Homo sapiens: one gene and its partners. The protein of the gene in region 1 purifies or fractionates together with the protein of each later gene. This does not show direct contact. Each region holds a gene or a part of one and is shown in the gene's direction. Other genes may lie near its edges.

Evidence for each region.
Region 2: the proteins of ABCB7 (region 1) and NDUFB6 fractionate together in Homo sapiens (co-fractionation; one large-scale study listed by BioGRID). This does not show direct contact.
Region 3: the proteins of ABCB7 (region 1) and ATP6V1D fractionate together in Homo sapiens (co-fractionation; one large-scale study listed by BioGRID). This does not show direct contact.

Annotation. Positions count from the first base shown.
Region 1 is NC_000023.11:75,149,771-75,153,424, reverse strand, and holds part of ABCB7 (iron-sulfur clusters transporter ABCB7, mitochondrial), read left to right. Parts: intron 1-3,654. UniProt on the Homo sapiens protein: Exports glutathione-coordinated iron-sulfur clusters such as [2Fe-2S]-(GS)4 cluster from the mitochondria to the cytosol in an ATP-dependent manner allowing the assembly of the cytosolic iron-sulfur (Fe/S) cluster-containing proteins and participates in iron homeostasis.
Region 2 is NC_000009.12:32,563,100-32,566,753, reverse strand, and holds part of NDUFB6 (NADH dehydrogenase [ubiquinone] 1 beta subcomplex subunit 6), read left to right. Parts: exon of another isoform or gene 1-363; intron 364-1,125; exon of another isoform or gene 1,126-1,357; intron 1,358-3,654.
Region 3 is NC_000014.9:67,353,253-67,356,906, reverse strand, and holds part of ATP6V1D (V-type proton ATPase subunit D), read left to right. Parts: intron 1-3,654. UniProt on the Homo sapiens protein: Subunit of the V1 complex of vacuolar(H+)-ATPase (V-ATPase), a multisubunit enzyme composed of a peripheral complex (V1) that hydrolyzes ATP and a membrane integral complex (V0) that translocates protons.

The DNA of each region.
Region 1 (3,654 bases):
CCTATTCTATATTTTAGAGGTTCTAGTTCATATTTAAATTTAACAATATAAGATGCCTATGAAGAAACTACAGTGATTATTCAACAGTCGTCCCAAAATATACTAAAAGAATAGAAAACAGAACTTATTCATCCTGGCTAACATGGTGAAACCTCGTCTGTACTAAAAATACAAAAAAAATTAGCCGGGCATGGTGGCGGGCTCCTGTAGTCCCAGCTATTCGGGAGGCTGAGGCAGGAGAATGGCGTGAACCCGGGAGGCGGAGCTTGCAGTGAGCTAAGATCGCGCCAGTGCACTCCAGCCTGGGCGACAGAGCAAGACTCCGTCTCAAAAACAAGCAAACAAACAAACAACAACAACAAAAACAGAACTTACAAGAGAAATAAGGGTGTCTTTAAGTGGATTATAGATCATGGAACTGAAAAGGGTGAGAGGTGATTCAGTGACATTTAAAGTACCTGAAGCGGCCTGGCCCAGTGGCTCATGCCTGTAATCCTAACACTTTAGGAGGCCAAGGCAGGTGGATCACCTGAGGTCAAGAGCTCGAGACCAGCCTGACCAATATGGTGAAACCCCGTCCATACTAAAAATACAAAAAGCAGCTGGGCATGGTCACGTGCACCTGTGACTACAGCTACTCAGGAGACTGAGACAGGAGAATTGCTTGAACCCTGGAGGCGGAGGTTGCAGTGAGCCGAGATCGCGCCACTGTACTCCAGCCTGGGCGACAGAGCGAGACTTCCTCTCAAAAAAAAGAAAAAAAAAAAAGGACCTGAAGGGGTTATTTGTAGTTCAGTGATGCCTAAACTTAACTGGAACATTAGGTTATGATACAAAGATGTGGACTTCATTTGCAGGAAGAGGGATTTAATGTGCATATGAGAAATAATTTCTTAGACTAATAGTCTATCTTAGTCTGTTTGGGCTGGTATAACAAAATACCATAAACTACATGACTTATAAGCAAGAGCAATTTATTTCTCACAGTTCAAGGTGCTGACAGATTTAGTGTCTGGTGAGGTCTTGAGGTTCATAGGCGGTGCCTTTTAGCTGTGTCCTCATGTGGTAGAAGAGACAAGGCAGCTCTTTGGCCCCTCTTATAAGGGAACTAATCCTGTTTATGAGAGCTCTACTCTCCAAGTCCTAATCACCTCCCAATGACTCCACCTTTTAATACCATCACATTGGTGATTAAGTTTCAATATAGGAATTTTAGGGGGACACAAATGTTAAAAGCATAGTCCTTTTATTAGGAGACCAATAAAGACTTTTAAAATTATTAAACAATAATTTGCTGTCATTAGAAAAATACGAGCTGTTAGGAAGCAGCCAGCTTGGTTTTGAAAAGAGCAAGACATACCAAACCAATTATTCATATGAGTGAGTGACAGTCTATCTTGATTTCAACACGGCTTTTAATTGTCCCCTACATTGTTCTCACACAGTAAGCTTGGAAGGAATGATATTGAATACTATTAAGAGGTCTTGAGGTAGGAGTAAGCCTTACTGTAAAGAAAATACAGATGACTTAAAAGATTTTTATTTCTAAATGTTAAAAATAATGAAATAACTGGTGTGCAAAGGGCATAACTTGGTATTGTGGGATGAACACTGGACCAGGACACTTGACCGCCTGAGCTCTATTTGTACTGTTAATTATCTTGGACACATAACTTGTTCTTTTGGACATCAGATCCTGTAAACTAGTAATATTTGACTACCAGATCTCTAAGGTTTCTTGCAACTCTCTTGTTTCTTTACTGTAATCCTTTAGGACCAGCCCTTTTTATATAGTACCTCTACTTTGTGATCCTAGTTTACTACTGGTGTAGTATTCAGGAGCAACATAGGGTAAGTTTATGTTCACATGAATTTTTAATGGGACAAATTTGTATTGTTCTTGTCATATTTGTATATCTAAGAGTAGGAATAGAAAAATGTAATTTAATTATGAGCTTAGTATTTGGTAGTGTTGGGAGGATGGAAGTAGTGTGGAGGAAAAAGTAAGCTAGGTTCCGAAATCATCTGGGATGGTAGAAATAGATTCTAAGGGGTGGTGAAGAATAACAGTAATGCTATAAAAGTTGTAAATAAAGATATACCTTACATGGGCTGTATATGGTAAGGAATGGAAAGTGGCACTGGGACTTGAGAAGAGGAATTCAGGGGATTCTTTTTTCAGATATAGTTGAATAAATAACATTCTCTAAGTCATTGACACATTGGTTTTAACTAGTTATTAAGATTATTAGGAAGAGGAAGAAAATTTCATGTTTCTAAACTTTCTTTTAGAACACGAGGCCCTTTGAGAATCTGATCAAAGCCATAGACCTTCTCCCTAGAAAAATATACATACGTATGTGCTTCATTTTGCATGCAATTTCAGGGGAATCAGAAACCTATCCCCTCTTCCAGTCAGTAATCCCTGATTAATACAATATTGCTGGCTGGTGGGTTTCTAATGGTGTTCCTGAGTAGCCAGTGGCAAGATAAAGAGCACTTGTCACTGGGCAGCGGGGTAGAAATAGAGTGGAAACTTACATCAAAATTTTGATTAAATGATAAATGCATAATTGATCATTTAATTATTGTTATACAATTGTTATAAAATTAATATCATTTATTGCTGTATTGTTGTCAGTGTTATCTTAAAGATTTTGCTTTTTCAAAGAAAAGTATGTTCTTTCCCATATTGTAAAATAAGGTATATAATAAGAGATAAAATTGCCCATTCTGTATACGATTCTTATGCTTTACATTGTCCCCATTTTAATTATACAAAACCACATCTAATAAAAACGTCAAGACAGATATCTACAATCCCACATGTTAAATAATTTTTCCTTTTTCCTTTGAATCTCTGTTCTTTCATGTACATAATTTTTACATTATTGGGATAATTTTAAATTCTGTTTTTACTTGTGAGCATTTTTTTTCTTGGTGCTCAGTCTTGACCAAAATTAGGTCTTTTAATTACTTAAGATTTTAGTAATGTTAATAGGTATATATAGTTACCTGCAAAATGTGATATTTTTGTTGTTTTGATTTTCTCCTTCCTTTCCTGAAATCCATCTCCCTGAAGTCCTCATCTGTGCTCTCTTGACTCCCTTGTAGGATTTGCCACTAGTGAGTAAAGATACTTTTCAAGTCTTTATTTAATGTCATTTGGTCTTCACAGTAATCCGGTTAGGTAGATGAACATTTCTTTGTAGTAGCAATGGCCTCTTCTGTCCTTTTCAGTCCCTTAACTTCTGCCCTAGTTTTAGACCCTTATTACTTTATGCATGGGTTTTGTCCCTGCTTTCAGGGACTTGCCCTTTCAATCCATCCTATACAGCACATCTAGATTATTCTTCCTAAGGCATGACTTTTATCCCATCACTTCCCTGCATAAACTTCAGTGGGCTTTATATCTTAGCCTTAAAAATTTCCACCTAACTAGATTGCTAGCCATATTGTAAACTGTTTCTCTACAAATACCCTGTCCCTCCAGTCACCCTATATTGTTCCCTGTTCCTTGGACCATGTGCTTTTTTGTGTCTGTTCTTTTTTTTATGCCACACCCTATGTCTGAAATGCCCTCTCTCTAACTGGTGCCTATTTTTCAAATGTTAGTTCAAAGGTCAGTCCGTTCCCTGAAACCATTCCTTATAA
Region 2 (3,654 bases), on another chromosome or scaffold:
TGAGGACCCGCTGTGGTTTGAAGGCTTGGAGTCCCGATTTTGGAATAAGTCTGGCTATCTGAGATACAGCTGTGAAAGCCGGATCCGGAGTTACCTGAGAGAGGTGAGCTCCTGCTCCTCCATGGTGGGTGCAGAGGCTCAGGAGGAATTCCTGCGGGTCCTCCGCTCCATGTGCCAGAAGCTCCAGTCTGTGCAGTACGACGGCAGCTATACAACAGAGGAGCCAAGGGTGGCAGCCGTCTCTGCACACCGGAAGGCTAGTTCTCCTGCCAGGGTCCCTTCGACATGGACGGCTGCTTGTCAAGATACTCCATCAACCCCTACAGTAACAGGGAGAGCAGGCTCCTCTTCTGGACCTGGAACCTGGATCACATAGTGGAAACAAAAACGCACCATCATTCCTACACTGGTGGAAGCAGTTAAAGAACAAGATGGAAGAGAAGTGGACTGGGAATATTTTTATGGCCTGCTTTCTACCTCAGAGAACCTAAAATTAGTGTTGTCTGCCATAAGAAAACCACCCACAAAACCAGCTATGACCTGAACAGAATCTACAAACCCCAGACAAGGTTGAAGAGGAAGTGGCCTGTGTGAAAGCGCCAGTGACATATACACACCATATTCTCGTCTTTGTTCGAGGCCTGTCGTGGGCATAATTTTAACAGGTGCCTTTTTTTTTTTTTGGTCACTCCAGTAGCTCCTGGAAAAAACCTTAAAAAATATTTCCGGCAAATCTGATTTCAGTACATTTCTGAATCATTGTTTGTTTGTTTGTTTTTTGTAGGTGGAGTTTCACTTTCGTTGCCCAGGCTGGAGTGTAGTAGTGTGATCCTGGCTCACTGCAACCTCCGCCTCCCGGGTTCAAGTGATTCTCCTGCCTCAACCTCCCAAGTAGCTAGGATTACAGGTATGTGCCACCATGCCTGGCTAATTTTTGTATTTTTAGTAGAGACAGGGTTTCGCCATGTTGGTCGGCCTGGTCTCGAACTCCTGACCTCAGGTGATCCACCTGCCTCGGCCTACCAAAGTGCTGGGATTACAGGCGTGGGCCTCCGTGCCTGGCCTGAATCATTTTTTGTACCTTCTGACAGCCCAACTTCCAGAGGACAACTTTGGGGTACTCACTGGATGTCTTGTGAGTCGTCAGTAGGGATAAGAATTGTCCTGAGCTGAGGAATTCTTCTGTTCTCTGGTTTTACCAGTATTTGGTTTGCTCATGTGGTGTGGTCACCATACTAAAACGGTGTCATGGCTGAAGTTAGCCACTCTTGTTTGAGGGACAAGTTGTTTATGCATCAGCTGTCTGCTGGCTCTCCATTTCCATGGCAAATGGGCAGCTCCATCCTTCTTGACTGTTCTAAATGCCCAAAAGAGAGGTGTCATGCTTTGGGGGTAAGATGTTTGTACTCCATAAAGAACATAAAAGGACATTCACTGCTGAATTTTTTTCTTTTTTTTTTTTGAGACAGGGTCTCACTGTGTCTCCTGGCTGGAGTGCAGTGGCGCGATCTCGGCTCACTGCGACCTCTGCCTCCTGGGTTCAAGTGATTCTCCTGCCTCAGCCTACCAAGTAGCTGGGATTACAGGTGTCCGCCACCATGGCTGACTAATTTTTGTATTTTTAGCAGAGATGAGGTTTTGCCATGTTGGCCAGGCTGGTCTTGAACTCCTGACCTCAAGTGATCTGCCTGCTTTGGCCACCCAAAGTGCTGGGATTACAAGCGTGAGCCACCGCACCTGGCCTGCTGAATTGTTTATAATGGCAAAAAGTAGGAAACCTCCCAATGTCTATGAATAGGGCCATAGCTATTATGTCGAACCACATGAAACTGCCGTTTTTCTAGGCCAAAAATGGTGAGCGATCGTTAATTTCATGATTCAACTTGATACATTTACATAGTGCAAAAGGATGTTGTAGTTTCAAGCTTTTATGAAGAAAGTGTTTCTGTGTAGAAACTGGAAGCTGTTCAGTGCACTGGCAGCTGAACCCTGCTCCTGCTCCATTTATCAGAGTTACTATCATCTCAGATAATATGGAGCTCATGTCAGCAGTGCAGGTGGTGAGTGCGCAGAGACAATCTGGAAGGAAACGCTGATCTGAACAGCAGTAATCCTGGGGGACATGGGGGTGGGACTGGATTACAGAGGACTCATTTTCTAAATCATGTATTTTATGATACTTGAATTTTTTTGAAATGGGCATTTATTTAATGACATGTTATAATGTACTTTTTTTTAAAAAAGTGTAATATTTGAATTTTTACATTTGTTGTGTAATCAGCAGAAGCAATAAAGATTTTTCAGAAAAAAGAAAAATGGCACTGATAGAGTTGCTTGTCTCGGGGTTGCTAAAACCTTCTATTTATAAGAAAACACAATATATGTGAAGTGCAGTAAAGCAAAGTGCAATAAAGTAAGGTATGCCTGTGAGTACATATGTTGATGATAAAGGGACACAGGATTCTCACTGCCGGAAAAGGGAGTTACCTATGTGAAAAGGAAGAAAAGTTTGTGGTGGTAGAATGGAATTGGAGGTACTGGTGTGAACTCATGGTTTTTAAAATGTATTGATAGACCTAGAAATAGATATAGATGTAAATGTGGATGTGTGCATGCGTGTTTGTGTGTACATATTCTCTAGCTATGTCCACTGAGAGGACCTGGAAACATTGCCACTCCTTAGTAATTAGCACACTTAGAAGCTAGGTCTTATTTTCTAAATACAGTTATGCACTGAAAGGACCCAGAGCTCAGAGCAGTGGCCAATTCTAGGGCGGGAGGAGAGAAAGTATAAGATGAGCTTGGAACATATTATTGTGCCAGAAAGTAAAGAAGTGCTGAAAGAATGATGGGAACATATTTCAAAGGACACAGAGTCAGCTTGCAAGGACTCCTGCCTGGGCAGTTTGAACTTCAAAGTAAATAATGATAGTAATAGATGATAGTCACCTGAATAAAATGAAAATCCATGAGTGCAAACTGATATAAATAAGTGAATTAATAAATGGGTAGAAAAGAAAGCTTTTTGATGCAATAATTTGCTGAATGATAGAATTAGAAAAATTACCATTTGAGAATCATCATAGTAATATTTAATTCAGCTAAGGAACATCAAAGGATGCTAACATTAGTCTGGGCACAGTGGCTCACACCTGTAATCCCAACACTTTGGGAGGCTGAGGTGGGAGGACTGCTTGAGGCCAAGAGTTTGAGATCAACCTGGGCAACATAATGAGACCCCATCCCTCCAAAAAAAAAAAAAGCCCAATAGTCCCACCTGTTCAGGAGGCTGAAGCAGGAGGATCGCTTGAGCCCAGGATGTGGAGCCTGCAATGAGCTATGATTGTGCTGCCCACTGTACTCCAGCCATCCTGGGTGACATAGTGAGACTCCCATCTGAATCAAAAAAAGAAAATTAAAAAAAAAAGAGGATGCTAATACTAATTTTAAAATACTTATCCTCAAAATATTTAATTTGTTACAAAGAGAGAAAGAGTATCTTTGTAGTAGAGAAATCTGGCAGACGCCACCTTAGTCAAGGGGTCTAAATTAACATTATTGATAATGGGGCAAACTGAAATTATGTTACTTGATAGGCTGCAATAAGAACACAGCATTACTTTTGTGATATTCCTGCCAAAGGTGCATAACTTG
Region 3 (3,654 bases), on another chromosome or scaffold:
ATCCAGCTCTTTGAGCCCAAGTTCTAGTATTTACTATCAACAATACATTATGTTAAATGCACACATTGAGATGGATAGCTCCTTCTCAGGCTGGAAACTAAACGACCTTCACTTGATAAGACCTCTTGTGAGACCAGTCAGTGCAGAGTCAGCCAGTGATAATTGTTCTCTTTAAGGGGAGGCACATGTTTGGGGTACAGTGAACGTAGGTTGGAGCCTTAGTTTGAGCATTGGGAAAGTCAGTGGAATCAAAAGTCTGGTTCAAGTCCCTGCCCTGCCTTTTCTTCACTGAGTAACTTTGAGAAAGTTGTTTTACTTTTCTAAGCCTCATTTTTCTAATCTTTAAGTTAATGTCTAAAGTCCCTTTCAGCTATAGAATTGTCTTAGTGATCTTAGCCCTATGGTAAAAGATTCCAGTATAATTTAAGAATTTGGCCAAATGGTGTTTGTTTGTTTTTGTTTTTTTTTTTTTGTTTTTGTTTTTTTGAGGCAGGTTTTCCCTCTGTTGCCCAGGCTGGAGTGCAGTGACCCGATCTTGGCTCACTGCAACCTCTGCCTGCCAGGTTCAAGTGATTTTTGTGCCTCAGACTCCTGAGTAGCTGGGACCACAGGGATGCAGCACCATACCCAGCTAATTTTTGTATTTTTTGGTAGAGATGGGGTTTCACTATGTTGGCCAGGGTGGTCTCGAACTCCTGACCTCAAGTTATCCACCTGCCTCGGCCTCCCAAAGTGTTGGTATTACAGGTGTGAGCCACTGCACCTGGCCAAAAAAGTTTATTAGTACATGCGATTTTAAAACACCAGTCATATGAAATTATATCCCCTTAAATCACTGTGTCTAGGTTATACTGTGTCTAGGTTATACAACCTTATTGTTGAATTTTATTACCCAAACACTTGTTTTTTTGAGACCGAGTCTTGCTCTGTTGTCCAGGCTGCAGTGCAGTGGCATGATCACAGCTCACTGCCTCAACCTCCTGGGCTCAATCAGTCCTCTCACCTTAGCCTTCTTTGTATATGGGATTACCGGTGTGCCCTACCATGCCCAGGTAATTTTGATATTTTTTTTTTTTTGTAGAGACAGGGTTTCACCTTGTTTCCCAGGCTGGTCTTGAACTCAAGCAATCTACCCACCTTAGCCTCCCAAAGTGCTGATTATAGACATAAGCCACTGTACCACTTACCTTATTTAGAGCATTCTTCCTAAGGTCCTCCAGGTACTTTTCATTAGCTCTTTTTCCTGCCTGAAATACTCTTTCCCCGGAACTTATAACTGGCTCCTTTGGCTGTTCTAGTCTCTTAAGAGAGGCTGTTCCTGATCACCCAATCTAAAGTGAACACCATGTTTGCTTCTGTCATAATTCCTTATTTTAATTTTATTGTAGCATGTACTACTGCATGGTATGACATTTTATTTCTAGTCTTTTTTTTTTTTTTTTTTTTTTTTTTTTTTTGAGACAGGGTCTTACTTCTACATCCTCGAACTGGGCTCCACTTTTTTCATTATTAAATTGTATCTGGCATATGGCAGCAAGAACAGAAATGTCAGTTTCTGCTTGACTTTGGTATTGGGGCTTCTGATGGGGAAAAAAATTGAAACAAGGAAGTGAGGAGACTTCAGTGTAAATTTAGCTTGTCATTTCTCAGGAATCTTACGTATGTCATTTGTTACCTAGTCTTTTACAAATTAATAAAATGATTGCTGTTAGGATCTTGATTGATGATATCAAAACATGTTAATACCACACTTTTAATAGAAAATGTGGTAAATTATTGTGGTATAAAAAATGCAGGCCAGGTGCGGTGGCTCATGCCTGTAATCCTAGCACTTTGTGAGGCCGAGGTGGGCGGATCACCTGAGGTCAGGAGTTCGAGACCAGCCTGACCAACATGGAGAAACCTGTCTCTACTAAAAATAAAAAATTAGCCAGGCATGGTGACGCATGCCTGTAATCCCAGCTACTCGGGATGCTGAGGCAGGAGAATCGCTTGAACCTGGGAGGCAGAGGTTGCAGTGAGCCGAGATCGCGCCATTGCACTCTAGCCTGGGCAACAAGAGTGAAACTTCACCTCAAAAAATAAAATAAAATGCAAAAGGTACAAAAGAATATAGTAGTAAAAAGTAAATCCATATTTTTCATCCAGTCCCATTTATCAAAGGTAACTCTTGCCAGTTTTTGTGAATCCTTTCTAGAACTATTCTCTGCATCTATATAAGCACATTTTTTCCTTACTTTGCATAAATAAGACTGTTATATAGACAGCACATGCCTATATACCTTCGTCTTTTTTAATGACTGTATATCATTCCATCATAGGTGAACTCTGATGTATTTAGCATTTAGCTTGTTTCTCCCTTTTGCTATTACCATAAGGCTGGAGTACCCATCTTTTAAACCTTGCACGTGTTTTTGTACACATGTGGGAATAAATTTGTAGGATAAATTCCGCAAAGTGGAATTGTTGGTCTTGAAAATAATTGCATTTAAAATTTTGATATATATTAGTGGATAGATTTTTAAATCCTTAATATACCTCCAGTGGAAACTAAAACAAAGATATTATTTTAACTTACAAATCAAATAAGTATTTAAACTATGTTGGCATCATAAAATAAGGCTCCTGATAACATTTATGATGATTTAATAAATATTCCAGATATTGATTATAAAATTGTTTCTGTTGTAAATTAATAAACTTTTCATTTATGGAACACTGATGGTAGAAATCTACATTATTGGAAAACCAGTTGTCTTAGTCCATTTTCTGCTGCTATAACAATACTTGAGACTGGGTAATTTATAAAGAAAAAAATTTATTTGGTTCATGGTTCTGGAGGCTGAGAAGGGTGAGGGCCTTCTTGCTGTGTTATCCCATGGCAGAAGGCGAGGGTGAGAGAGAAAGCAAGAAAGGGTCGAACATGCCTTTTTTTTTTTTTCTAAAGGGACAGGGTCAGGTGCAGTGGTTCATGCCCATAATCCCAGCACTTTGGGAAGCTGAGGCTGGAGGATTTCATGAGACCAGGAGTTAGAGGCTGCAGCAAGCTATGATCATACCACTGCAATCCAGCCTGGGTGACAGAGCAAGACCCCATCTCAAAAAATAAGGAGTCGGGCCGGGCATGGTGGCTCATCCCTGTAATCCCAGTACTTTGGGAGGCTGAAGCAGGCAGATCACTTAAAGTCAAGAGTTCGAGATGAGCCTGGTCAGTATGGTGAAACCCTGTCTCTACTAAAAATACAAAAAAATATAGCTGGGCTTGGTGGCATACGCCTGTAGTTCTAGCTACTTGGGAGGCTGGGGTGGGAGAATTGCTTGAACCTGGGAGGTGGAGGTTGCAATGAGTCGAGATCGCGCCATTGCACTCCAGCCTGGGCCTCACAGTGAGACTCCATCTCAAAAACAACAACAACAACAACAACAAAAGGAGTCTTGCTACTATCTTACCCATGCTGGACTTGAACTCCCAGGCTCAAGGGATCCTCCCACTTACACCTGTAGCTGGGATTACAGGTGTACCCAGATGAACTCACATTTAAAACCAACCCACTCCTGCAATAAGGAACCCAGTCTTACCATAATGACGTTAATCCATTCATGGAGGGCAGATCCCAGATGACCCAGTCATCTCTTGATGGTCCCACCTCCCAA